Linked DNA regions of Homo sapiens: region 2 is linked to region 1. A link means that fine-mapping ties the variant in region 1 to the expression of a gene that starts in the linked region. Tissue or cell type: whole blood. Region 1 holds a variant in brackets; the other region holds the start of a gene. All regions are shown on one strand. Distances are between the middles of the regions. Region 1 overlaps RAB5A (RAB5A, member RAS oncogene family). Region 2 holds the start of RAB5A (RAB5A, member RAS oncogene family).

Region 1 (13,048 bases):
TTTTCCCTAAGTTCCAAGTTACCACTGCCTACTATCTTAAGCCTGTAATTCTACTTCGCATTTTCTTATAATTCTTTTATAAATGGGTCTGAAATGAAACATTTTTCATTTCCCCTCAATTTCTTTTGAATAGCCTCTCTACCTGCTTTTCTCTTCTTGGAACACTAAATAAGTGTTCCAAGTGTCTACCTCTTAAATTAGCTTATTGAGTCTCACAATAACTTTGACAACACTGCAGGTGAAAACCTGTTACTTAGTGAAATAAAGTGACCTAATGAAGGCCACATAGACAAAAGTTTGGGGTTAAAGTCTGACTGTCAGGCTCCTAAATCCTTCCACTCCCCATACTGTTTTTCTACACCAAACTGTCCTTATTACCCCTGGCAACGTTGTGCATCCTAGGTGTGTTTTTATTTTTCCTGCTTCACCCATCACGTATATAGGTATGTCTTTTTCTGACCACCACATAAAGTTTCTTTTCCTCTTCTCTCATTCTTTCTTTAAACTCTCTTGTTTTAATCAACACTAAGTCACCTTTCTGGCTTTATCTGAGAAAAATGTTGATATTGCCTACTCAGCTCTAGAAGTCCCTGGTTGGGATTCCAGAGTTCACTCTGTAAGTTTACTGGACTTTTCCTTTTCACAAAAGTTGGTGATAACCCAGTAATTGCAGGAGGCAGCCACATCATTACCCTCTGCATAAGAAACACTGTACCTGACTATGCCACTTTAAAAAGGCTTGAGCATCATCTCCAAGCGGCTCTTTTTAATCCCCAAGATTATTGTTCCTAAACACGTTGCTCTTCCAGTAATCCTGTTCCATTTTTGTTCTGATAACATTTTCTGAAGAGCGCAATCTCTCCAAATACTGAAAGCTGTTACCTTTGTCTAGGAATTCATTTATGCTTAGATTAAAATTGTGTAGTGGTCTTCAACACAGTTCATTGCTTGGTTAGCTGTTCGCATTTCCTCCAAACAGGTGTTACCAATAAACTTTTTCAAAAGTCAAATTGTCCTTTCTCTTAAACTATTGAAGGCTGGTTCCTCTCCACTTCTCCAGACTATGTGGACATAACAGTGATATTTAATAATCTTCCTCTACTTGCAGTGAGCCGAGATCGCGCCACTGCACTCCAGCCTGGGCAACAGAGCAAGACTCCGCAAAAAAAAAAAAAAAAATCTTCCTCTAATTTCCCATCTTCATGGAAACCTTTTGTTCATTATTCTGTTCAAGCTTTCAGTTTAATATAGCACTTGACTTCAAACACCCTGTTTGTAGCTGACAGCATATGCCACTCATTGTTACAAAATGAAACTATTGACTCTGCACATCTAGTTTTTTAGTTCGTTCCATTAGTAGTCTTCCTGATGAATCTCACCCTCTGCTTCCTGGGTTAGATACACAAATAGTTAAGAAACGCTGGCTACTTCTCCTTCACTTTTTCTTTCCTTCATGCACCATTCATACAGGTAAACAATGTGCTGCTGGGTGCAGTGACTGGCACTTGTAATCCCAGCATTTTGGGAAACCAAGCATTTTGGGAGGATCGATTGAGCCCAGGAGTTTGAGACCAGCCCGGGCAACATAGCGAAAGCCTGTCTCTACAAAAAAATGCAGAAATTAGCCAGGTGTGGTGGAACATGCCTTTAGTCCCAGCTCTCGGGAGGCTGAGGTGGGAGGATCACCTGAGCCCAGGGAGGTCAAGGCTGCAGTAAGCCGTGATCATGCCACTGCACTCCAGCCTGGGTGACAGAGTGAAACCCTGTCTCGCATTATCTCCCTTTTTAACAGGTAGAGGAAGAACTGCAACCAGGATTTAATGTCCTTTCTCCTAGAATATTTTATTGTGCTGAATCCAAAGGATGTTCACAAGTAATAAAATGGGCCAACATGGTATGTCCTACTCTGTAGCACAGGAAAAAAAAAAGGCAAATAGTGCATAACGCTACACTTGTCAAGCTCTCTGCAGAGGTAACTAAAATAAAAATAACCTGTTTACCATCCTTCCATTGTAAGTACATATTTCTATTAAATTCTTTTCAAATCACATACTAGGAAAATAATGCTTTTTCTTTTTGCTAAATGGCCTTTGACTTGCCACATGCAAATGAACATTTACAAAGTCAATAGATTTGACTATTGTGAGCCAAACTATGTCCCTTTCGTTTTCAGAGCTATGGCCGTACAATTCGTATGTATGCACACACGTAAAAATTTTTCTCATTTAAGAGGTACTGAACCATATGTACTAACAATTCCATTTACTCAGTTGTCACATTAAGTGCCACTTCATGTTGTCTTGCTGATTCAGTAATAATTTATAATCCAGCAAAAGTCAAGATTTTACTGACTTATGTTCTGCAAAATCTAAGTCGAATAATCAACAGTAAGACAAGTTAACACACAATATTAATAACCAAACTATAAAGAAATGAGGGGCCATATAGCCTTTAGAACTATGTATGTAGTTTCCAAAATGTTTTTCACAAACACCATCTTTTAGTCCCAATCCAGTAGCTCAGCTATTAAAAATTCCTATTATATAAATGAGACAACAGTTTCTGTCTATATCTGACACTAATGCTTTACCAATTTAGGCTTTTTTTGAGTCTCACTCTGTCGCGCAGACTGAAGTGCAGTGATGCGATCTCGACTCACTGCAACCTCTGCCTCCCGGGTTCAAACAATTCTTGTGCCTCAGCCTCCTGAGTAGCTGGGATTACAGGTGTGCACCATCACGCCCGGCTAATTTTTGTATTTAGTAGAGACAGAGTTTCGCCATGTTGGCCAGGCTGGTCTCAAACTCCTGGCCTCAAGTGATCCTCCTGCCTCAGCCTCCCAGAGTGCTGCAATTACAGGCATGAGCCACCACACTGGCCACCAATTTAGGCTTTCCAATTATACCACTATACTAGTTGCATGGACCTCAACCTTTTTTGTTTTTTTTTGAGAGAGTCTTGCTTTGTCACCCAGGCTGGAGTGTAGTGGCGTGACTTCGTATTACTGCAACCTCCACCTCCTGTGTAGAGGCAGTTCTTGTGCCTCAGCCTCCCAAGTAACTGGGATTACAGGTGTGCATGTGCCACCATGCCCTATCGGGGGAACCACCCCCAATATTTCATGTAGGTTCTTTCCTATTTCCCTAAGTGTCCGTCGGTCTCAGAAATAAAGGGAAAGAGTACAGTAAAGACAGAAATTTTAAAGCTGGGTGTCCGGGGGAGACATCACACGTCAGCAGGTTCCGTGATGCCCCCTCAAGCCACAAAACCAGCAAGTTTTTATTAGTGATTTTCAAACGGGAGGGAGTGTACGAATAAGGTGTGGGTCACAGAGATCACATGCTTCACAAGGCAATAAAATATCACAAGGCAAATGGGGGCAGAACGAGATCACAGGACCTGGGTGAAATTAAAATTGCTAATGAAGTTTTGGGCATGCATTGTCATTGATAACATCTTATCAGGAGACAGGGTTTGAGAGCAGACAACAGGTCTAAAATTTACTAGGCGGGAATTTCCTCATCCTAAAAGGCCTGGGGGTGCTACAGGAGACTGGGGCTTATTTCATCCCTTATGTGCAACCGTACAAGAGACATTCCCAGAGAGGCCATTTCAGAGACCTCCCCCTAGGAATGCATTCTCTTTCTCAGGGCTGTTCCTTGCTGAGAAAAAGAATTGAGCGGTATTTCTCCTATTTGCTTTTGTAAGAAGAGAAATATGGCTCTGTTCCGCCTAGCTCTCAGGCAGTGATACCTGATGGTTATCTCCCTTGTTCCCTGAACATCGCTGTTATCCTGCTCTTTTTTCAAGGTGTCCAGATTTCATATTGTTTAAACACACATGGTTTATGAACAATTTGTGCAGTTAACGCAATCATCACAGGGTCCTGAAGCGACATACAACCCCAGCTTACGAAGATGACAGGATTAAGAGATTAAAGACAGACATAAGAAATTATGAGTACTGACTGGGGAAGTGATAAATGTCCATGAAATCTTCACAATTTATGTTCAGAGATTGCAGTAAAGACATGCGTAAGAAATTATAGAAGTATTAACTTGGGGAACTAATAAATGTCCATTAAATCTTCACAATTTATGTTCTTCTGCCATGGCTTCAGCCAGTCCCTCTGTTCAGGGTCCCTGACTTCCCGCAACAACGCCCGACTAATTTTTTTGTGTTTTTAGTAGAGATGGGGCTTTGCCATATTGCCCCAGCTGGTCTCAAACTTCTGGCTTCAAGTGATTTGCCTGCCTCAGCCTCCCAAAGAGTGGCGATTACAGGTGTAAGCCACCATACCTGGCCTTGGACCTCAACCTTCTAAGCCTAAATACGTAAAAAACTGTGGGCCTAGAATTGAACTCCTCCTGCAAGCAACTAAATGATCCCAGGTACAATATCATATTTAAAACCAGAATATTCTATGTAAATTTGGCTTCCTATTCCAGGAATTTTAAATCTCAAAGATGTTATAATATTCAAATATCATTAACCCCATCTCAGAAGTTTAATAACTTTCTATAAATCATAAATGATTTAATATCAAGAAAAACAATATGTAATTATATGTAATTTAAAAAATACGTAATTATATTCCTAAAAACTTGGGGAAAATCAATTTTTCCTAACAAACTAAAAAAATTCAGTGGTTCTTAAAAAATACACCAAAAAAAGTTACAGTAATATATAACCACCCTGCAATCTGTTCAGATCATGTTTAAACTGTAAGATTTCAATGAAGCACACCATCACAGATTCATTTGAACCACGGACAAACTACAATCAACTTTTAAGATTTCAGTTTCCAACCAAAGGGTTTAATGTTGGCTGCCTATTATTCATGTAATACATTAACAACATATTTCTCCACAGGAATGATTTTTTTTTTTTTTTTTGAGGCAGATTTTTGCTCTTGTTGCCCAGGCTGGAGTGCAATGGCATCATCTCAGCTCACCACAACCTCCACCTCCCGGGTTCAAGCAATTCTCCTGCCTCAGCCTCCCAAGTAGCTGAGATTACAGGAACATGGCCACCACGTCCGGCTAATTTTTTGTATTTTTAGTAGAGATGGGGTTTCTCCATGTTGGTCAGGCTGGTCTCGAACGCCTGACCTCAGGTGATCCGCCCACCTCGGCCTCCCAAAGTGCTGGGATTAAAGGCTTGAGCCACCACACCTGGCGGATTGACTTAAATTTTAGAATCTACACATTATAGCAACCTAGTTAAGACTAACATTAATAGTGACATTCTAATTTTTTCATCACCCATGACCTAAGTATATTCAAGTTTTAACTTGTACTGGTTACACAACTGTCATTCTTTTTAAAAAATCAAAGTTTGTGTTTTAAATTGAAAAAGCATTTATCTTAAAAACATTTAAAAATCTCCTAGATGGAATATATGTTGGCTATAAAAAAGTTCAACTCATGACTCTGCAATGTGAGTAATATTAAGTCATTTCATTTCAAAATTTAGAAGTTACTTTGCATTATCTGTAATGTTAATACTAAATGTAATAGTTTTAAACACTAAAAGCTGCTTAACAATGAGGGATAAATTGACCTGTTTGAAATCTGTATTTACTGTA[A/C]ATCATTCAGTAGTGATATATTACACATATTTAAACGTACTTTTACATAGCCTGCTTTCTGTTTAGCATTGAAACACAGAATTTACTAAAGTTAGCAGTAGATTTTGATACAATTGGTTATCTCTAGGATAAAAATTTCTTCTTTTAAAAAATAATCTTTTAGGTAATGTGCAAGCAGTCTTATGCAGAAATGGGAAAGGTTTTTGCCTAACCAAAGAACATACTACACGAAACACAAATGAAAGAAGAAGAATACTTCAGAATGGAGCAGTCATTAGTTCAAATGAACCATACGGGCTTGTAGAGGGGCAAGTAAAAACTACACGAGGACTTGGATTTCATGGAAATCTCAAGCTGAAAAAATCCATTATCCCAGCACCTCAAACTATTTCTGTCCCTATAGATGACCTATGTCAATTCCTTATTGTAGCTACTAATGGACTTTGGGAAGTTTTGGATAAAGAGGAAGTTACTGCCCTGGCAATGACAACATTTCACATGTATAAAGAAACATACTGTCCTATCATACCTAACAAATCACCATCCAAAGGGCCTCTGCTTTTTTCAACCAGTGAACCAAACCTTACTAAATCACAGAGTAATATCCACGTATTGTTTCAGTATAAATCTGTATCTGAAGTACGTGTGTCAACTACAAATTCCAAAGAAAATTTATCCGATTCAAACTATTCTAAATACTGTATTTATAACCCTGAGAATGTAGAAACATTTCCAGCAGAAACGACTCATCGTAAACCTTGCAGTGAAAAAGTAACTGACAGACCAACTAGTGTAAATGATGTGGCAACAAATGAAAAAGAATCAGACACTAAGAGTTTCTATGAAGGCGCAGCTGAGTATGTTAGCCATGAACTTGTAAATGCTGCTTTACTGGCTGGCTCCAGAGACAACATTACAGTTATGGTAATATTTCTCAATGGAAGTGAATATCAGCTTCTGACATAAAAAAATAAAGTTCCAATTATCCAGAGCACCAAAATATAAAGTGATTCTTCAATGATCCAGCTATTAGGATGATTCATCAATACCATGCAAATAATTTTATGAACATAGTAAAGAAAATATAAAAGCGGATACTAGGTCATATAGTATCATTTATATATATTCACTGTTTTATGCCAAAAAAAAGGAAAAGAGAAAAGCCGATACTTGCTTTTTATACCACTTTATTCCAACCTGAGCACCTCAATATAAAACTAAACACTGGTGAACCGTTTTCCTAATTCTGCATTATCATAAATGTACAAGTTCTCCTAGCAGTCCAACACTTAAATAGATTAAATCATCTCTGACACATGGTAGCTTTCATATAATGAAAATACCTAAAATAATTAGTGCAATATACTGAACTGATCAAAATAAAATGAACTTTGGAAAGGAAGGCTGCAAGATTGTTACTAACATATTGCAATACTTTATGTTACAAATTACGGGTACATTGTTTATTATGGTTCTAGCCATGGAGGAACAACTGAAGCCCCTTCCTGTCAAAGGGGGAGAGAGAAATAATTAGCTGTTTTAGTAACAGTACATTTTGTATGCTTTTAAGCAACTCTTAAATATTACAGAAAAGTAATACAGATATGGAGACTACAATGCAGTACCCTATTTACAGTACAGCTGAAGATCGAATTTAAAATAATCAAGTTTGAATATACATAATTGTTAGTGCATTGACTATATTATGTCAAAAGGGAACAAAAGCCCCCTCCCCACCCCAAACAACAAAACCTGTGTAATGGCCAGCGGTGATTAATTAGAAATCACAGACACCTGGTTTATTTCATTTTTGTTAAAGAACTCACATGTTTGAAAGGAACACTGACCATTAAGGTGCATTTATTAGTTCTCAAAATTCCTAAAACAAGATGGGGTTGCATTTGATTTTTACCCCATTTAAAAAAAAAAAACCAGACTGGGTATAATTAAGATACCATTAATACTCTTCCCCACCCCTGACCTTGTATATGTGGGATTATTTTCTTGTGGTTAATTTATTAAAATGTGGAATGTACATTTTAAATACAGGTACCAGGAGAAATGAACATTTGCCTGAATACTATGGCTAAGCATCATAAATAACTTTAGAATCTCCTTCTAAACAAAGAATGTTTTTGAAAAGCCCAAATTAGTAAGTTCCAATTTTTTTTTCACAGGTGACTACTGTACCAGTGTGGAGAAATGGGCTGGTTAACTGTGTGGGCCCAGACAGTCATTTGTCTATATTCCTAGTGATGAGAAATTATTCCCCCTAACCTTCCAATGAAACAAGTGTCCACATAGTTCTCATTTTTCCCTATTGTTGAAACATTAGTGAGAGGGACCCATGCATGTTATTAAAAATTAAGTTCAAAACACTTAAAATAATTCTGTATTAGAAACTTGACTCTATCATAAGTCTCTTCTTTTGGAAGTCATACTGGGCTGGTTAAATGCTCCAATTCCATTGTTATTAACATTTAGGAAGCAGAAGACTATTCCAGCTAGTTCAAACTAGAGGTTTAGTTACTACAACACTGATTCCTGGTTGGTTGTGTGGGTTCGGTAAGGTCTACTCCTCTTCCTCTGGCAGAATTTGCTCCTGGATTTTGTGGTTCATTCTTTGGCAATTTTTTAGCTGAAAGAAAATGATCAAATAAATAGAATATTTGAATACTCATATTAATATCAGTTTCACCTGCTTATCTATAATTTTTCTTTCCAGTTAGGTTACCCCCAAAGTATCATATAACCATATGTTCATTCTTTTCAAATGTTTACTGAGTATTGAATGCCAAAATATTGGTTGCTGTCTTAGGGAGTTTGATTTCTGGGGTAATTGTGTTGGGGGAACGGTAGATGGGGACTGGTTGTAGATACAATTAAAACTTAAGCCTAACTAGTGCTTTATGTAATTCTCTATACCGATTCACTCAATAATACCAGAAAAGTTCTATTTTATTTTATACTCATTATTACTTCTTTTTTTTTTTTTTTTTTGAGATGTAGTCTCACTCTGTCACCCAGGCTCACCTAGGCTGGAGTGCAATGGCGTGATCTCAGTTCACTGCAACCTCCACCTCCTGGGTTCAAGTGATTCTCGTGCCTTGGCCTCTCGAGTAGCTGGAATTACAGGCATGCCCCACCACACCCAGCTAATTTTTGTTTTTTAGTAGAGACGGGGTTTCACCATGTTGCCCAGGCTGATCTTGAACTCCTGACCTCAGGTGATCCACCTGCTTCAGCCTCCCAAAGTGTTGGGATTATAGGCGTGAGCCATGGCACCTGGCCTCATTATTACTTCTATTAAATAAAATCTAAGTCAATAAAGATGATGGCCAGCCAGTAAGTTTATAAAGAAGCTCAGCTCATATCAGCGTTCTCTAGACTGCCACAAACATTTTTTAGAACAAGTCAGGATACAAATACCTTTGCAATCATCACCCCAACAAAACTTGTCCTCTACTGTGCAACTAATTATCACCCCGAATTGTGATAGATCATATCTACTATTTCCTTCCTGGCTTCCACAGCCTTTGGCCTTAAAACATCTATATACATGCTCTCTTTTTTTTTTTTTTTAAGAGACAAGGTCTCACTCTGTCACCCAGGATTAAGTGCAGTGGTATGATCATGGCTTACTGCAGTCCTGAGTTCCAAAGTGAGATGGGGTCTCACTTTGTTGCCTAGGCTGGTCTTGAACTCTTGGGCTCAAGCAACTCTTCCGCCTCAGACTCCCACGTGCTGGGACTGCAAGCATGAGCCACCATGCTCGACCGCTTAGTTTTTAAAAGAGAAACTTACACCTTGCAGAGTAACCATCAGCTGCCTTCAAATAAAGGGGAAATAGATAAGAGTTGCATTTTTGAGAATGAACAATTATAATCTATGCTTTGGGCAAAGGAAGGACAGATAACACCCAAGTTAGATGCCTGCATGTGTCAAAACTTAGCATACTGGAGGAAACATACTCACACACAAACATACCTTAGCATGCTAGTGGAAATACACTTAGACACAAACATATCCACATACATTTATACATACTCAACACTTCGTTGTGATCTTAGTTTGAATGTAGCCTGCAGCCATACTTCTTTTCATTTTGGAGACAAGGTCTCCCTCTGTAGCCCAAGTTAGAGTGTGGTGCATCAATCATAGCTCACTGCAGCCTTGAACTCCTGGGCTCAAAAGATCCTCCCACCTCAGCTTTCCAAGTAGCTGAGACTACAGGGTGTGCACCACCATGCCTGGCTTTTTTTTTTTGGTAGAGATAGGGTCTTGCTCTGTTGCCCAGGCTGGTCTAGAACTCCTGGCCTTGAAGATCATCCCACCGTGGCCTCTCAAAGTATTGGGATTATAGGAGTGAGCCACCTCAACCAACCTCATTTTCTCCTTTTATGGGCTGATGAATCCTAATCTGACTGACCAGTAGCTGTACCTAATCCAGATAGAATTATCCTGAAGACCTCATCTCCAAAAACTATTTCTTAATTTTATTTGAGTCCGATGAGTGTGGCTTGTCAAATTCAGACAACACTCTCAACCAGCAGTTACGGCTTTACCTCTGCCAAGCTCTATACAGCTAGTGGCTGTTCTCTGGAGTGTGCTTCCCACTGATTAAAAAAACTTACCTGCTGGATATACAGATGCTCCTTGACTTACAATGGGGCTACATCCTGATATATCCATCCTAAGTTGTATGTTTTTGATTTATGATTTTTTTTTTTTTGAGGCGGAGTCTCGCTCTGTCACCCAGGCTGGAGTGCAGTGGCACGATCTCAGCTCGCTACAACCTCTGCCTCCTGGGTTCAAGCAATTCCCCTGCCTCAGCCTCCCAAGTAGCTGGGACTACAGGCACATACCACCACACCCAGCTAATTTTTCTATTTTTAGTAGAGACGGGGTTTCGACATGTTGGCCCGGCTTGTTTCCTGACCAACTCCTGACCTCAGGTGATAGCCCGCCTTGGCCTCCCAAAGTGCTGGGATTACAGGTAGTGAGCCACTGCGCCCAGCCTGATTTATGATATTTTTAATTTATGATGGGTTTCTGTATGTAATCCCGTAGTAAGTTAAGAATGTACTAAATGCATATCACTTTCACCCCATCGAGTTATAAAATCGTAAGTCAAACCACTGTAAAGTTGGAGATTGCTGTAGTTTGTTTTAATACATAAGATCCTTGATGTGCTAAATTCATTTTTTGAGGGGAGGCAGAATATTAAAGATGACTAAGAGTACTGATTTTAAGAGTGGCTGCACACACTGATCTCTATCAATCTTGGGGACAGACCACTATGGTAAGACTCTAACTTTACCATAGCTTTGACTCAGGTTACTCAGAAATTGAATACACTCTGCTTTGAGATCGGATTGCCTAGTTGCATTGTGAACCTTTTATCCTTTATTTGTTCTACACATTCCATTCTACATCAGCATCAATCATTTTTAGAATCCTAGATGCTGGGTTGGGCAATGGATTTGGGAGCCAGGAGCACTGAAGTTTGGAAAGAAAGCCTTCAATTGGGCCACTTCTCTGGGACTGGCTCTGGGCTGGTAGCATAAATAGCATTATAATGGTAAATCTCCAGTCAAATGTATTTACAAGCAAAGCCCCAGAAATGTTGAACACTGGTACCTGGGACACAAAATAGCACTATATATTGTATATAATAACAACTTAGGTTCCAGATTGAGTAATCAATCATGTATCCCTTTAGCATGTTCCCTAAGTGTTTAAATCAGAGGTGAGTGAGATTAAGAGGATGAAGGAGGTAAACTAGAACGAGTAACTTTTTAGTCCTTGCATTGATTAGAGTTGTTATGAGTGCACTGTGTGATTTAAGTTACTAATCTATCAAAGTGTTCCTTCATAACAAAAAAAAAAAGAAAAAAAAATTTACTAACCTAGTGAAGGAAATGGAAAGGCCACAATTCCATTTACAACATAGATTTTCTTTTAAGAAGTGCAACATTCTGATTTCAGAAAAAAACAAAAAACTAAAATATGTAGGCTGCTTTCTAACTCGAAAAATGACTTTATTAGCATGTTTGAATAAAAAGGTACAAACTAAAGCCCATCTGGTAGAGTTTAAATATTGTGAGAAAGGTTTACAGTGCAGGCTGATTTGAGAGGCCTATTAACTCATTGTTTCCTCTAACTTTTCAGATGTGATTCTGGGTGTCATCTGTCACATTTGTAAAATGAGTATATTATCACACAATCCTTCGCAACTGTGCCAGCACTTCCCTAGCAAACTGCAAACTTGAGTTTTTCAGGAAAACAGTTTACATGAGAAAAGGCAAGTTCTTTCCCATTTCGAATGAAGTACCATTAAACTCTGTCACCTAGTGAAAAATAATAAAAATACTTGCAACTTTTACTGGGTTTTCATTATTCTCTGATTCAGCTATTAACTATTTATGAGTTCAATTTAAGAATATTTCTTACTTGGGGTTAGGACTGTGAACACCCCAGTTAAGAATCAGTGCTGTAAAATAAAAGGTGTTATGGGATGAGAAGAGTGCTGGGCACATGAAAACCACAGACGGCAAACTTTGAGAACCACCAAAACAGACCCTTCAGGTAGAATCTATACATTAAAACCACTGGAAAGAGGAAAGGGTTAAAAAAAAAATCCAAAACCAAAAAACAAAACCAACCTTTATTTTTGTTATAGAAAAAAGGAGGCTTATTACTACTCCAACTTCATTACTTATAACTGAAACAGCAATTACCATCAGTTAAAAGTACCTTAGGGCCAGGGGCAGTGGCTCGCGCCTGTAATCCCAGCACTTTGGGAGGCTGACGTGGGCGGATCACAAGGTCAGGAGATTGAGACCATCCTGGCTAACATGGTGAAACCCCGTCTCTACTAAAAATACAAAAAAAATTAGTCGGGCATGGTGGTGGGTGCCTGTAGTCCCAGCTACAGGAGAGGCTGAGGCAGGAGAATGGCGTGAATCCAGGAGGCGGAGCTTGCAGTGAGCCGAGATCGTCCCACTGCACTCCAACCTGGGTGACAGAGCAGGACTCCATTTCAAAAAAAAAAAAAAAGAAAGTACCTTAGGCTGGGTGTAGTGGCTCACGCCTGTAATCCCAGCACTTTGGGAGGCCGAGGTGGGCAGATCACGAGATCAGGAGTTCGAGACCAGCCTGACCAACATGGTGAAACCCTGTCTCTACTATAAATACAAAAATTAGCTGGGCGTGGTGGTGTGCACCTGTAATCCCAGCAATTCAGGAGGCAGAAGCAGGAGAACCGCTTGAATCCGGGAAGTGGAGGTTGCAGTGAGCTGAGATCGTACCATTGCACTCCAGCCTGGGCGACAGAGCGAGACTGTCTCAAAAAAAAAAAAAGTACCTTAAAGCAACAGCAAGAACATTGTGTAAGATCAAATGACCATCTGAGGTAATATAAAGTATGGATGTTGTTTTGTTTTCCTTTTTTCTCCTTAC
Region 2 (13,048 bases), 41 kb after region 1:
AATGAAGCAGGGAAAAAAGAAAATCTCACCCCCAATGGTACTCTCTTGAAATTCATGAAATTGGCCTTTCACAAAACGAAGCACTAGGCTTGATTTGCCAACAGCGGACTCTCCCAGAAGTACTAGTTTGAACTGGCATATTTTATTTCCCGTATTTGGCCCGTTGGGTCTTGTTGCGCCTCGACTAGCCATGTCCAAATTTGAAATAAGTCCCTAATTTCAGACTCTTCAATGAACTTCCAGAATTCAAGGGGCCAATATTCTTCTTTCTGGAGGTAAAGAAACCTGTAAAGAAACAATTATGAATTAAATATACAAATCAGTAAAGCAAATTTACTATTAATCACTTTAAATATTGCCTATAGCATGATTATCTTAAACTCTACTAGACCTTCAATGCCCTTTAGATTATGTCACTATCTTTTAAAGGAAATTCAAAGGTATAGGATGTGAGTCCAAAATTACTTTTTTTTTTAAAGGCTAACCTCAAAGCTTCAAGTTTGTGCCAGGCAGTGCTTTAAGTACTTAACTTCTCAACAATCCTATAAAATGAGATATTATTACAATCCTTATAAATGAGGAAACAAGCACAGAGATGTTAAGAAGCTTAATTGAGGTCACACAGTTATTGTCACAGAAGTGACAGAGCCGAGTTTCAAACCCAGGCAACCTGAGAGATGACTCGAGTTCAAGTTCTGTAGCCAGGCTACTTGGATTAACATTGTTTTGAGAAAAATTATGTTATTAATAAATGGGAAACTTTTAGAACAGATCCTAAAATTTAGTATTATTTGAAGTTTTCTGTTAAACGATGCATTTTTCATTTAATTAATGGTAATTTTGGACAACAAATATTTTCAGTCTCCCAGGTTTGTGTGCCTAACGGCAGACTTAAAACTGTTTCCTCATCTGCTCAAGCACACCATACACAGAAATGCTAACAGTTGTTCTCCATGTGGTGATTATTACTGACTTATTTACTTACAATAATTGTAACTTTTTTGTAGTCTTTAGACGAACAATATACATGCCATTTTTAAAAAAATTTTTTTGGAGAAAGGGTTTTGCTCTCTCACCCAGGCTGGAGTGCAGTGGCGTGGTCACAGCTCACTGCAACCTAGACCTCCTGGGCTCAAGCAATCCTCCTGCCTCAACCTCCTGAGTAGCTGAGACTACAGGCGCTCAGAACCATGCCAGGCTAATTTTTTGGTAGAGACACTTAACTGCTATGTTGCCCAGGATGATCCTGAACTCTCGGGCTCAAGCAATCCTCCTGCCTCAGCCTCGCAAAGTGCTGGGATTACAGGTGTGAGCCACCACGCCCAGCCTGCAGGCCATTATTTTTTATTTAAACAACACATTAAAGAAATCTAGCCTGAATGGCGACTTCTATGCTAATTTTTAATCTCTAAGGAATTAGTGAATATTTGAAGAACCTTTTTCAATCCACTCACAAACCAATCTTAACAGTTTCCTTCTATCTTTAATCAAAATCCGAATACATGCTAATATATTAAACCTGATGATTCCCTCTCTAAAAACCCTGCTATATTTCATTTAGCTACCTCATATAAGAAATACGTCTTTCACACTGGACAGAGTGGCTTATACCGGTAAATCCCAACACTTTGGGGGTGAGGCAGGAGGACTCTGAGACCAGCCTGGGCAACACAGTGAGACCCTGTCTCTATATTAAAAACAAAAGAAAGAAATATGCCTTTCCCATAAAATGAGCTTATAATACGCTCTTCATAATGAATTCCCTAACATGTCCACGAGATCTTAGTTCTTAAGGCAATGAAACTACCTCCTTGCCTTAACTAAACACCAGCTTTTTAGAGTCCTTATCTTTTACCATTACATACTGAAATATTTACAGATTTATTGACGTAATATCTGAGTTGCTTCCAAATAACAAGGTATAAATAAAAATGCCCCCTCCTCCACAAACATACCAGATTTAGGGGTGTAATCCTGGCTATACCAATTTCCGTCTGGGCAAACTCTTTAATTTCCAAGTTTCTATTCCCATAATATCTAACTTGCATAGCTGATGTGACAATTAAATAAAACAATACATGTAAACAATCTCTAATATACATAGTAGGGATTGAAATTGCCAATAATGTGCTCCTTTGATAAGAAAATGATAAAATATCAATAGAACATCATATATACTGAAAATGCACCAATACATCTTCAGATATTACACACAATCAAAACATTTTCCATTTGTCTTTTTATTTAAGAAAACAAGAAATTACTTATCAAGGACAATATGCTCCAAATTTCTACGGCACTTCCAAAATTTTAGGGAAAATATCAGACTCCCATTAAAAAAAAAAATCAAACAAGATTCTGATTTCACTTTGACTTTTAAGGTTTAAAGCTACTTAATTGTGGCTACTCCCCCTAAGGATCTCAAACAGGAAATAACTAAAGTTAATGGTAAATATACACTTAGCATAACACTAAGGTTAAAAATTACGTGCATTCATTTGTATTCACTGCTTACTGAAACTTCTGTTTTGCAAAACAAGAATTTTGCATAATATACATTTGTAATCTTTTGAAAATAACTGTTATTCATTCTATAGTTAAAATCCTTCTAAGGGTTCTTTGATCAAAAAATTGACTGGGCACTTATTTTGTGCCAGGCACTGTTCCATTTACTTTGTTTATACAAATGCTGAGTTATCACTTCCATTTTACTTTAGGAATAAAGTTTATGAGCAGTCTTGAGTATTCCCAGAGGTGTACAAGTGTTTTTTTCTTATTATGTGAAAGGCAACTGATTGAACGCTTTGATTCCATTTAAGCAAGACAAAAACCAAGTATGTGAACTATGACGTTCAGAACTTAACAAGTTTGAAAGTCTCAGAGGTAAGCAGCTTCCAGGGAAGATAACGCCAGAGCAAGTTCCATGGTCTCTACCCAGTGAAGGAGTTCAGCGGTCCTGTTATCTTGAATTTATTTAACGCTGTAGTTCACTACCTTCCAAACAGAAAACAAGTCTCTAGACAGCCTATTTTGACGAGCCTCCCACCCACCGACACTACTCATCTTTGGAAGTTGAAGATAGGCGGAGCTCCCCACATTGACACCTGCAGTAGGCCCAGGTTCCTGCTTGGAGAGCACCTGAGTAGCTAATAGCCAACTACAGATCGCCTGGATAAGCAGCACTCGCCAGGTCCCTTGGCCTTTCCAACCTCCTCCCCCGAACCTGCCTTGCTTTGACCGAGACCCCCAGGACTGCCAGGACGGAGACCAGGCGGAACCGCGGCCTCCAGTACACTTTCCACGGCGCCATCTTGAGAAGGGAAAGGGTGACACCCGTCGCTCCCTCAGTCAGTCCCCAAATCCCGGTCTCCAGAGCCCCTGGAGGATGAGTCACCAGGGCTGGCAGAACAAGACGCCGGGTTCGATAGTTCTCTGGTCCAGGGCACTGCTGCGCGTGAGGGAGAAGGGGTGGGGGGTCTCAGTACCGGCAGGGCCGCGGACAGGCTGGGGACCGCGGATAACCTGGGGTCCAGGCCCCCGCTGCGCAGGAGGAGGGGCGGTTCGGTTACCTGAGACCGCAGCAAGCCGAGCTGCGGGGCCGAAGCTTCCTGGCAGCAAGGCCCAGGCGTGGCCCGTAGGATGAGAGTGTATCTATGGCGGTGGTGGTGGCGGCGGCGGCGTCGCCTGCTCTTAGCGCCGCTCCCCTCACACTGGACTGTGCGGGGCTCGTGCCGTGGTGCCGCCCCTGTCGGGCTCCGTCTCCGCCTCTCGCCGCTCCCCCTTCCTCTTTCCTTTCTCCTCCTCCGCCGCCGCCGCCGCCGCCGGCGCTGGAGTTCCGACTAATTCTTCCTCCTCCTCCTCCCTCTGCCTCCTCCCCTAAGGCCAGCCGCCGGCTCCTTCACGAACCAAAACACAAACACTCAAGTCCCACCGCCGGAGCCACTTCCGCTGCCCGGTGCCGGCCCCGCCGCCACGTCGCTGCACGCAGCGAACTGCGCCACTTCGTCACTTCCCATCATCGCCAGTCCGCCTGCTCCTTCCGCTTCCTCGCCCCTTCCCGAATCCCTCCCCGCCTAGGTTTGTTCGCGGGGCGGGGCGAGGCAGGATGTCACGTGACCCTGCGAGTGGCTCAGATCCGAACTGGCCGCCTTTCTCCCCTTCCCCCACCCCAGGTACGCGCGGCCACGCCCTCTCCAGCGCCATTGTTATTTAGGCTGGGGGGTCTCTGGGCTCCTGGCGGCCGGGGTCGGGGGAAATTCCTTTACTATTCTTTGGGGGAAGATCAAAATAACTTGTGTTTTTTTGTTTGTTTTTTGTGCCCAGCCCTTGTGGGAGCGGCGAGGTTCCCTAACCCCAATCCTGGCATCTCGGCTAAGGGGCTTTATTAGAGGGAACTTGTCTAGCACGAGAGAACCTCCTCCCACAAAATGGCCCTGGGGTTGGGTAGGTCGGTAAAGGCTGCTAAATCGCATTTACCCCAAGGAGGAAGAAAGGACCCTCCCTATCCCAAAAGCCGCCTTTAGGCGCCTGACAATAAGAAGTCGCTTCTGTTAAGAGTTTACGTGGTTTTGGTAGGGGGCGGGGAAGGCCAAATCCTAAAATAGTGTCTGCCTTTTATTCAGAATTTCCCTTCGCTCTTTACTGTACTAAACGCTTTACAGGAATTATCCCATTGAATTCTTACACTCGAGTCTTTCATTCTGAAACTAACTTGTTAATCGTCTGTTCCCTACATTCGAATTTTAGCTCCCCTTGGTGGTCCTCACCGCTGTAAATCTATGTCTAGCCCAGTGCCTGGCAGCCAAGTCTTCAGTTCTAGTTGTAGATGTTTTATAGGTAAAGAATTTGAGACACAAGAGATTGAGTAACTTGTCCGAGATCACGGCTGTGTGGTGCAGAAGCTGGATTCTGATCTGCGGCGGGTTGGCTCCAGAACGTGAGTTGTTGAACACAATTCTGGTGAAAGACAACCCAAGATGTTCGTTACCCTCCACGGGGGACCTACTGAAGATGTGCTGCTTTAGTTGAATCCCACACCACATTCAGTCTCTGGCGAGGCTTCAGCCACCACCCCCTCCCCAGCCTCCGCCAAAAAAATTGTTTTGATAATTTAGTGGAAGAATATTAAATTGATTTTCCTTCAGAATAAAGGCTACTTTTCAGTTTGCAGTTTACAATGTATAGCTCTGTTGTAAGGGCGAGAATATTGTCTTTGAAGTGTACCGGGTTAAGGTATCTTATGGGCGTACAGTCGGCGGCATTGTGCAATTAAGATGATTTGAACTTTGAACAGCCCGTCTTTCAGATCAACTACCTAGTTGCCAGAAGAACGTAATGTGTCATACGTAAATGATACCTGTGGCATTTTATTCTCAAGGAGTTGTTCAATATGAACTATTAATCATGGTAATAGCTCTGGGACAATCCCAGGAGGAGTCAGGAAATAGGATATGTGACATCAGTTTTGTCATGTCAACAGTATGCCCAAAACGAAACCTATTCCACTCCAAACCTGCTTCTGCTTAGAGACTGGCATTAACATCCTCCCAGTCACCCAGACTTGGAACTGCAGAATCAGCTTCACCTCTTTCTTCTCCTCACAAACCATTGTCCATTCTATCAACAAATTATCTAATCCCCAAATTTGAAGTCTAATCCCAACACCTGGTCCATGGTAGTGTTTATATAAACTGAAATTAATGCATACTGCTGTTCTTTCTGTCCATTCTTTACATTTTAGCCACTCTACTAAAAAATGTTCAATGCTATGTCATTACTTGACAGTCTAAAGTTCTTTAACTCTAGTCCCAACCCAAGTTTCTTTCATTCTATTTCTATAGAATTCCTCTCCCCATACTCTTTATTTGTTCCCTGATCACACGTATCTGGTCTGTGTTCCCTGAATATTGCCTGTGTGTTGCCATCTTGGTATCTGATCACTTTATTTTCTCCACATGGAACACTATCATTGCCCATAACTGCTGGCTCCGTCTTAGCCAGGACACCAGTTCCTTTGGACCGCATCTGCAGATACTTCTACTGGATTCAATTATTATTTTTTCTGTAATTTCACAATACTTTGCCTTACTCTGTATAATGGCTGTCTTAAAATCTGCCTTATTTTAATAGCTAATGAGCACCTGGACTTTTCTCCTTAGCCTTTCATTGAATTATAAGGTTTTTAAGGGCTGTGACCATCAGTTATTCATCATTTCAGTTCTTCACAGAAGACCCTTGACTGCTATAATAGGGACCCCCAAAGTATTGGTGAACTTAATTACATTTAGAATCACGAACATTAAGAAGACCTCACAATGAAAAACATTTGATGCTGAAATTTATAAATTGCAAAAAACTCCCTATTTCATCGTTCCAGTATGTTGCTTCTTCACTCGTTCCTGTTTAGTGATTTTGTCTTCACCTCCTTCATGAATACTTTTCACAATATTTTACAGTTTAGTCATAATGTTTGCCTGGAAGAGTGCTGCCCTGGTGGCTGGCATTTCTAAAGATCCGGTAGTAGTTTTAGAGAAATTGAAATGACACAGTAAAGCTCTGTTGTTTTATTGCCACTTGCAATATGCCTATGTTTTCTTTTTCATAGCCCCAGATAACTGAGGAGGACTGATAATTGTATATATTTTAGTGTCAAATGTGGAGTCCTACCAGTTGATAGAACTTGTTAAGGAAGGTACAAAATGGATAAATAATCATGAAGACTTAAACACTGTCTTTGATGCTTATACTGCCCTCAAATCTCTAAATACTCAATAACAAATTCCCAGTGGCAGGTGTCTCTCTACCATTCACAGGATCCCATAACCTTTTCCTTCTCTTCCAGGAAATCTGTCCTCCCTTGTGTAGCTAAAGAATGAATCTTTGCATAGATGATAATGAATGGTTACATTTACTTTTAACTGGAACTGTCTGGAGACAATTCAAAATTTTTCCTGGAGACAAACCAACGGTAACTCTAACATTGGCGTAGTAGCAAGTCAGTGAATAAAAGGCTGTGAAAACTTAAGCTAGTCATGTTTCAAAAGCTTGTGTCTTTGGAGGGCATCATTCAGGCTTCAGCTCAAATGTCATCTACCTAAGGGACTTCTAAGCCCACTAATTCTAAATGCTTTGTTACATATCGAAGTAGTCTGTTGTCTTCATAACAGCACTGTTTGATATGATATTATGCATTGTCTTCATAACACTTAGCACCATTTGATATGATATTACGCATCGTTCCACTTAATGGTTATCTATCCCTACTAGAATATAAGCTCCATGAGATAGGGGTTGGGTTATACAGTCAGTCCATCTGCTTGTGATTGGTTCTTGGACACTCCCTTATTCCCCCACCATATGGGTACCAAAATTTGCAGATGCTCTAGTCTCATGTAAAATGGTGTAGTATTTGCATGTAGGCTATTCTGTATGCTTTAAATCATCTTCAGATTACTTACAATAAGTAATACAATGTAAATGATATGTAAATAGTTGTATTTTTTTAATTTGTATTATTTTGTGTTTTTTTCATTTTTTAACTCAAATACTTTCGATGGAATACAGAGGGCTAACTGTATTCCCAACACTGACACAAAATAGGGAGGGACTCAATACCTGTTTGTAGAATGAATGAATGAATTGAATGAGCCCTTACCTGGATTTACATACTGCAAAGTCATTTGAAGAATTTATGGGGATTTATTGAATGCTGTGGCCACTTTTGGGGTTCCTATGTCTTTCTTCAGAATCCAATCCGGCCTACATGCAAACAACCCTGTTTAAAGGACCTGCAGTTGGTATTCATCTTGGCACCATCTACTCTTGTGTGGGTGTTTTCCAGCATGTAAAAATAGAGGTAATTGCCAATGATCAGGGAAATTGAATCACTCCAAGCTATGTCACCTTTACTGATACTGAACAATTGCTCAGTGATGCCACAAAGAATCAAGTTGCAATGAACCCCATGAACACAGTTTTTGATGCCAAATCTGATTGCTGATTGGACACAGACTTGATTATGCTGTTGTCCAGTCTGATATGAAGCATTGGCCCTTCATGGTAGTGAATAATGTTGGCAGGCCCAAGGTCCAAGTAGAATACAAGGGAGAGATAAAAAAAACTTCTGTCCAGAAAGGTGTCCTCTAGGGCCATGGACTGGTACTGGACTGTGGCCTGTTAGGAACTGGCTGCCCAGCAGGAGGTGAGTGGCAGCAAGTCAGTGAAGCTTCATCTGTATTTACAGCTGCTCCCCATCATTCACATTACCACCTGAGCTCCCCCTCCTGTCAGATCAGTGGCAGCATTAGATTCTCATAGGAGTGTGAACTCTATTGTGAATTGCACACACAAGGGATCTAGCACTTCTTATGACAATCTAATGCCTGATGATCTGTCACTCTCTTCCATCACCTCCAGATGGGACCGTCTAGTGGCAGGAAAACAAGTTCAGGGCTCCTACTGATTGTACATTATGGTGAGTTATATAATTATTTCATTATATATTACAATGTAATAATAATATAAAGTGCACAATAAATGTAATGTGCTTGAATTGTCCTAAAACTATCTTCCCCCGATCCTACCCCCTGCAACTTGGTCTGTGGAAAAATTGTCTTCCATGAAACTGGTCCCTGGTGCCAAAAAGGTTGGGGACAGCTGCTCTGTTATTCTGACAAAGATGAAGGAAATGGCAGAAGCCTACCTTGGAAAGAGTGTTACCAATGCTGTGGTCACAATATCAGCTTGGTTTAATGATTCTCAGCATCAAAGCTACCAAAGATGCTGGAACTATTGCTTATCTCAATGTACTGAGAATTATCAATGAGCTAACTGCTGCTTCTATTGCTTATGCCTTAGGCAAAAGGTTGGAGCTCAATGAAATGTGCTGATCTTTGACCTTAGAAGTGGTACTTTTAAATTTTTATTTATTTATTTTCTTGAGATGGATTCTCGCTCTGTCACCCAGGCTGGAGTGGTGCGATCTCGGCTCACTGCAATCTCTGCCTCCCAGGTTCAAGTGATTCTCCTGCCTCAGCCTCCTGAGTAGTTAGGATTACAGGTGCCCACCACCACGCCTGGGTAATTTTTTTTGTATTTTTAGTAGAGACGTGGTTTCACCATGTTGGCCAGGCTGGTCTCAAACACCTGACTTCAGGTGATCTGCCCCCCCTCAGCCTCCCAAAGTGCTGGGATTACAGGTGTGAGCCACTGTTCCTGGCCTTTTTTTTTTTTTTTTGATGGAGTCTCACTCTTGTTGCTCATGCTGGAGTGCAGTGGCGCAATCTTGGCTCACTGCAACCTCTGCCTCCCGGGTTCAAGCGATTCTTGTGCCTCAGCCTCCCGAGTAGCTGGGATTACAGGCATGCACCACCATGCCCAGCTAATTTTCGTATTTTTAGTAGAGACGGGGTTTTTCCATGTTGGCCAGGCTGGTCTTGAACTCTTGACCTCAGGTGATCCGCCTGCCTCAGCCTCCCAAAGTGCTAGGATTACAGGCGTGAGCCATTGCGCTTGACCTGGAAGTGGCACTTTTAATGTGTCAGTCCTCACTGTTGAGGATGGAATCTTTGAGGTGAAATCTACAGCAGGAGACACCCACTTAGGTGGAAAACACTGACAACCAAGTGGTCCACCATTTTATTGCTGAGTTCAAGTACAAGCATACAAAGGACATCAGTGAGAATAAGAGAGCTGTCTGACATCCCCATACTGCTTGTGAACATGCTAAGTACACTCTTTCTTGAGCAGCCAGGCTAGTATTGAGATCCATTTTCTCTATGAATGAATCAATGTCTATACCTCTTACACATGCCCTATTTGAAGAACTGAATGCTGACCTGTTCTGTGACACCTGGACCCTATAGAGAAAGCCCTTCAAGACACCAAACTAGACAAGTCACAGATTCATGATATTTTCCTGGATGGTGGTTCTACTTTTATCCCCAGGATTCAGAAGCTTCTCCAAGACTTTTTCAATGGAAAAGAACTGAATAAGAGCATCAGCCCTAATGAAGCTGTTGCTTATGGTGCAGCTGTCCAAGCAGCCATTCTGTCTGGCAACAAATCTGAAAATGCTCAAGATTTGTTGCTCTTGTATGTCATTCTTCCTTCCCATGGTATTGAAACCGATGGTGTAGTCATGACTGTTCTCATTAAGCATAATACTACCATTCCTTCCAAGCAGACAGACCTTCACTACCTACTCTGACAGGCAGCCTGATGTGCTTATTCAGGTTTATGAAGGTGAGCATGTCATGACCAAGGATAGCAACCTGCTTGGCAAGTTTCAACTCACAGGCATACCTTTGGCACTCCAAGGTGTTCCTCACATTGAAGTCACATTTGATATTGATGCCAATGGCATCTTCAGTGTCTCTGCTGTGCACAAGAGTACAGGAAAAAGAACAAGATTACTGTCACTAATGACAAGGGCCATTTTAGCAAGAAAGACATTAAATGTGTGGTCCAGGAGGCTGAATAGTACAAAGCTGAAGATGAGAAGCAGAGACAGGTGTCATCAAAGAATTCCCTTGAATCCTATGAATTCAACATGGAAGCAACTGTTGAAGATGAGAAACTTCAAGGCAAGATTCACGATGAAGACAAACAGAAGATTCTTGTCAGGCGTAATGAAATTATTAACTGGATAGATAAGAATCAGGCTGTTGAGAAGGAAGAATTTGAACATCAGCAGAAAGAGCTGGAGAGAGTCTGCAATCCCATCATTACAAAGCTCTAGCAGAGTGCAGGAGGAATGCCTAGGGGATTCACTGTTGGTGGATCTCCTCCCTCTGATGGTGCTTTCTCAGGGCCCAACACTGAATAAGCCAGCCCAAGTACAGATGTAGCATTGTTCCACACACTTAAAACACTGAAGGACCCAAATATGTAGCAAATTCTGTGGCAGTTTTTTTTCTTTTTTGATCAGTCAATGTAGTTTAATTTTTCCCAGTCAAAATTTGCCTAAAAAGGCCTGTAATCTCATAAAAAAAGAAGTACATAGAAAGTAAGCCTTTAAAGGAATTGGACAGATCATTCCAAACTGGGGCAGGAAATTGAGTAGTCTTCATGAGGAAGGTGGTGTTTGAGAGATGTCGGAAGATGGCTGAGTCAATAGGGGCAGTGGGCCTTAAACTCCTGTAGAGGAGATACAATCAAATCTATAACACTAAGTTGTTGGAGGGTGCCAGAGTGTCATCCATGCCAGTTCAATATCAATTGTTCGGTTTTACAGTGGTTTATCAAAGCCTTTTTTAGATCAGACCCTGTGCATTCTATTAGAAGGCTTGCTCTTCAAGGAGCATCTAGTTTAGTACACAGACATGGAAACCCACATAGATCATAGTAGGATAAATACTGTTACAAATAAGTTTGAGGTGCTATGGGAGCATGAAAGAGGGAGACCCATGGGCGGGTGCGGTGGTTCACGCCTGTAATCCCAGCACTCTGGGAGGTCGAGGCGGGCGGATCACGAGGTCAGGAGATAGAGACCATCCTGGCTAACACGGTGAAACCCCATCGCTACTAAAAATACAAAAAATTAGCCGGGTGTGGTGGCGGGCGCCTGTAGTCCCAGCTACTCTAGAGGCTGAGGCGGGAGAATGGCGTGAACCCGGGAGGCGGAGCTTGCAGTGAGCCAAGATCGCGCCACTGCACTCCAGCCTGGGCGCGACAGAGTGAGACTCCATCCCAAAAAAAAAAAAAAAAAAAAAAAAAAAAAAGGAGACCCAACCCAGTTTGAGTGGCAAGACGTGCTACTGGGAAGAAGTAATCCCTGGGTTGAGTCTTGAAGAGCATTTACCAGGCAAGGAGGGCAGAGGATGAGTTGGAATAAAGCATTCCAAGCAAGGGGGACAACAGGGGCAAAAGCAGAAAGTCATAAAGTAGGCTGGGCATGTTGACTCGTGCATGTAATCCAGCACTTTGGGAGGCCAAGGCAGGTGGATCACCTGAGGTCAGGAGTTTGAGACCAGCCTGACCAACATGGTGAAACCCTGTCTCTACTGAAAGTACAAAAATTAGCTGGGCATGGTGGCGGGTGCCTGTAGTTTCAGCTACAAGGGAGGCTGAGGCAGGAGAATCGCTTGAGCCCTGGAGACAGAGGTTGCAGTGAGCCAAGATTGTGCCACTGCACTGCAGCCTGGGTGACAGAGTGAGACTCCTTCTCAAAAACAAAACAAAAGCAAACCAGAAAGTCATAAAATAGCCCAGTGTGCGAGTGGAACTACACGCCCTGGGTTGAGCTGTAGTACAGGCCGCAGTAAGGTGGCAAGCGTCAGGGATAAAGCTGAAGAGGTTGGCAGAGACTGGATCACGGAGGTCCAATTTTTGCTTCTGAAGGTTCTCTCTGGCGATCCTTGGGGTGAGGAGAGACTGCAGTGGGCTAACATGAAGGCCAGTGTAAAGGTGATTGCAAGATTCCAGTTAAGATGTAATGAGGTCTAAATCAAGTCTGTGACTGTGAAGATACCAGAGATGTTGACCCACATCTCTTATTTTTTTCCTAACATTTTATGATGAACATTTTCAAACATTCAGAAAATCAAAGTAATTGTACTGTGAACACCCATATATCTACCACCCAGATTCTACAATTAGCATTTTACTACACTTGGCTTTATCACATATGTCCAGCCATGTATCAACACTTTATGCATTTCAAAATTATGAGCATGTGTACACATTCCTTTAAACATTTCATCATGCATGCCATTTACTAGAGTTCAATATGTGAACCTTTTTAAAGTTCAAATATCCATAAAATGAAGTAAATGCAAGCGTCTTAAGAGTATAATTTCATGTTTTGACAAATGTATATACCTGTGTAATCCACATCCCTATTGAGATACGGAACACTACCGTAATCTCAGAAAGTTGCCACATGTCCTTTCCCAGTCAATCACAGCCCTTTCTCCTTTCAGAGTTGGCCTTGAGTTTGGAATGTGTGAAAATAGACATTCCAGGTGAAGGGAACCTAGGTGGCTCCCTCTCCAGCAAAGGCATGGAGGCAGGTAACTAGGGAAGAACACATAAATGTTAGTAAACAAGT

The links. PIP is the estimated chance that this variant, and not a neighbour inherited with it, causes the effect.
Region 2: RAB5A starts here. The variant in region 1 is fine-mapped to the expression of RAB5A in whole blood (INTERVAL, PIP above 0.99).

Annotation. Positions count from the first base shown.
Region 1 is chr3:19,978,885-19,991,932 of GRCh38, reverse strand. RAB5A (RAB5A, member RAS oncogene family) reads right to left here. Exons shown (of 6, transcript NM_004162.5): 6 at 6,758-8,225. The coding sequence ends at 8,110. It overlaps PP2D1 (protein phosphatase 2C like domain containing 1), which reads left to right. Exons shown (of 3, transcript NM_001252657.2): 3 at 5,751-6,587. The coding sequence ends at 6,553. Among named protein-coding and RNA genes, the nearest start is that of PP2D1, 27 kb to the left of the region's middle. The variant A/C (reference allele first, on the strand shown) is at 5,588.
Region 2 is chr3:19,938,043-19,951,090 of GRCh38, reverse strand. It overlaps RAB5A (RAB5A, member RAS oncogene family), which reads right to left and starts at 3,994. Exons shown (of 6, transcript NM_004162.5): 1 at 3,570-3,994; 2 at 30-285. The coding sequence starts at 192. It also overlaps a transcript of EFHB not described here and the pseudogene HSPA8P18. RefSeq lists enhancers at 2,710-3,309, 3,356-3,405, 3,926-3,975, 3,837-4,006, 3,932-4,101 and 1 more.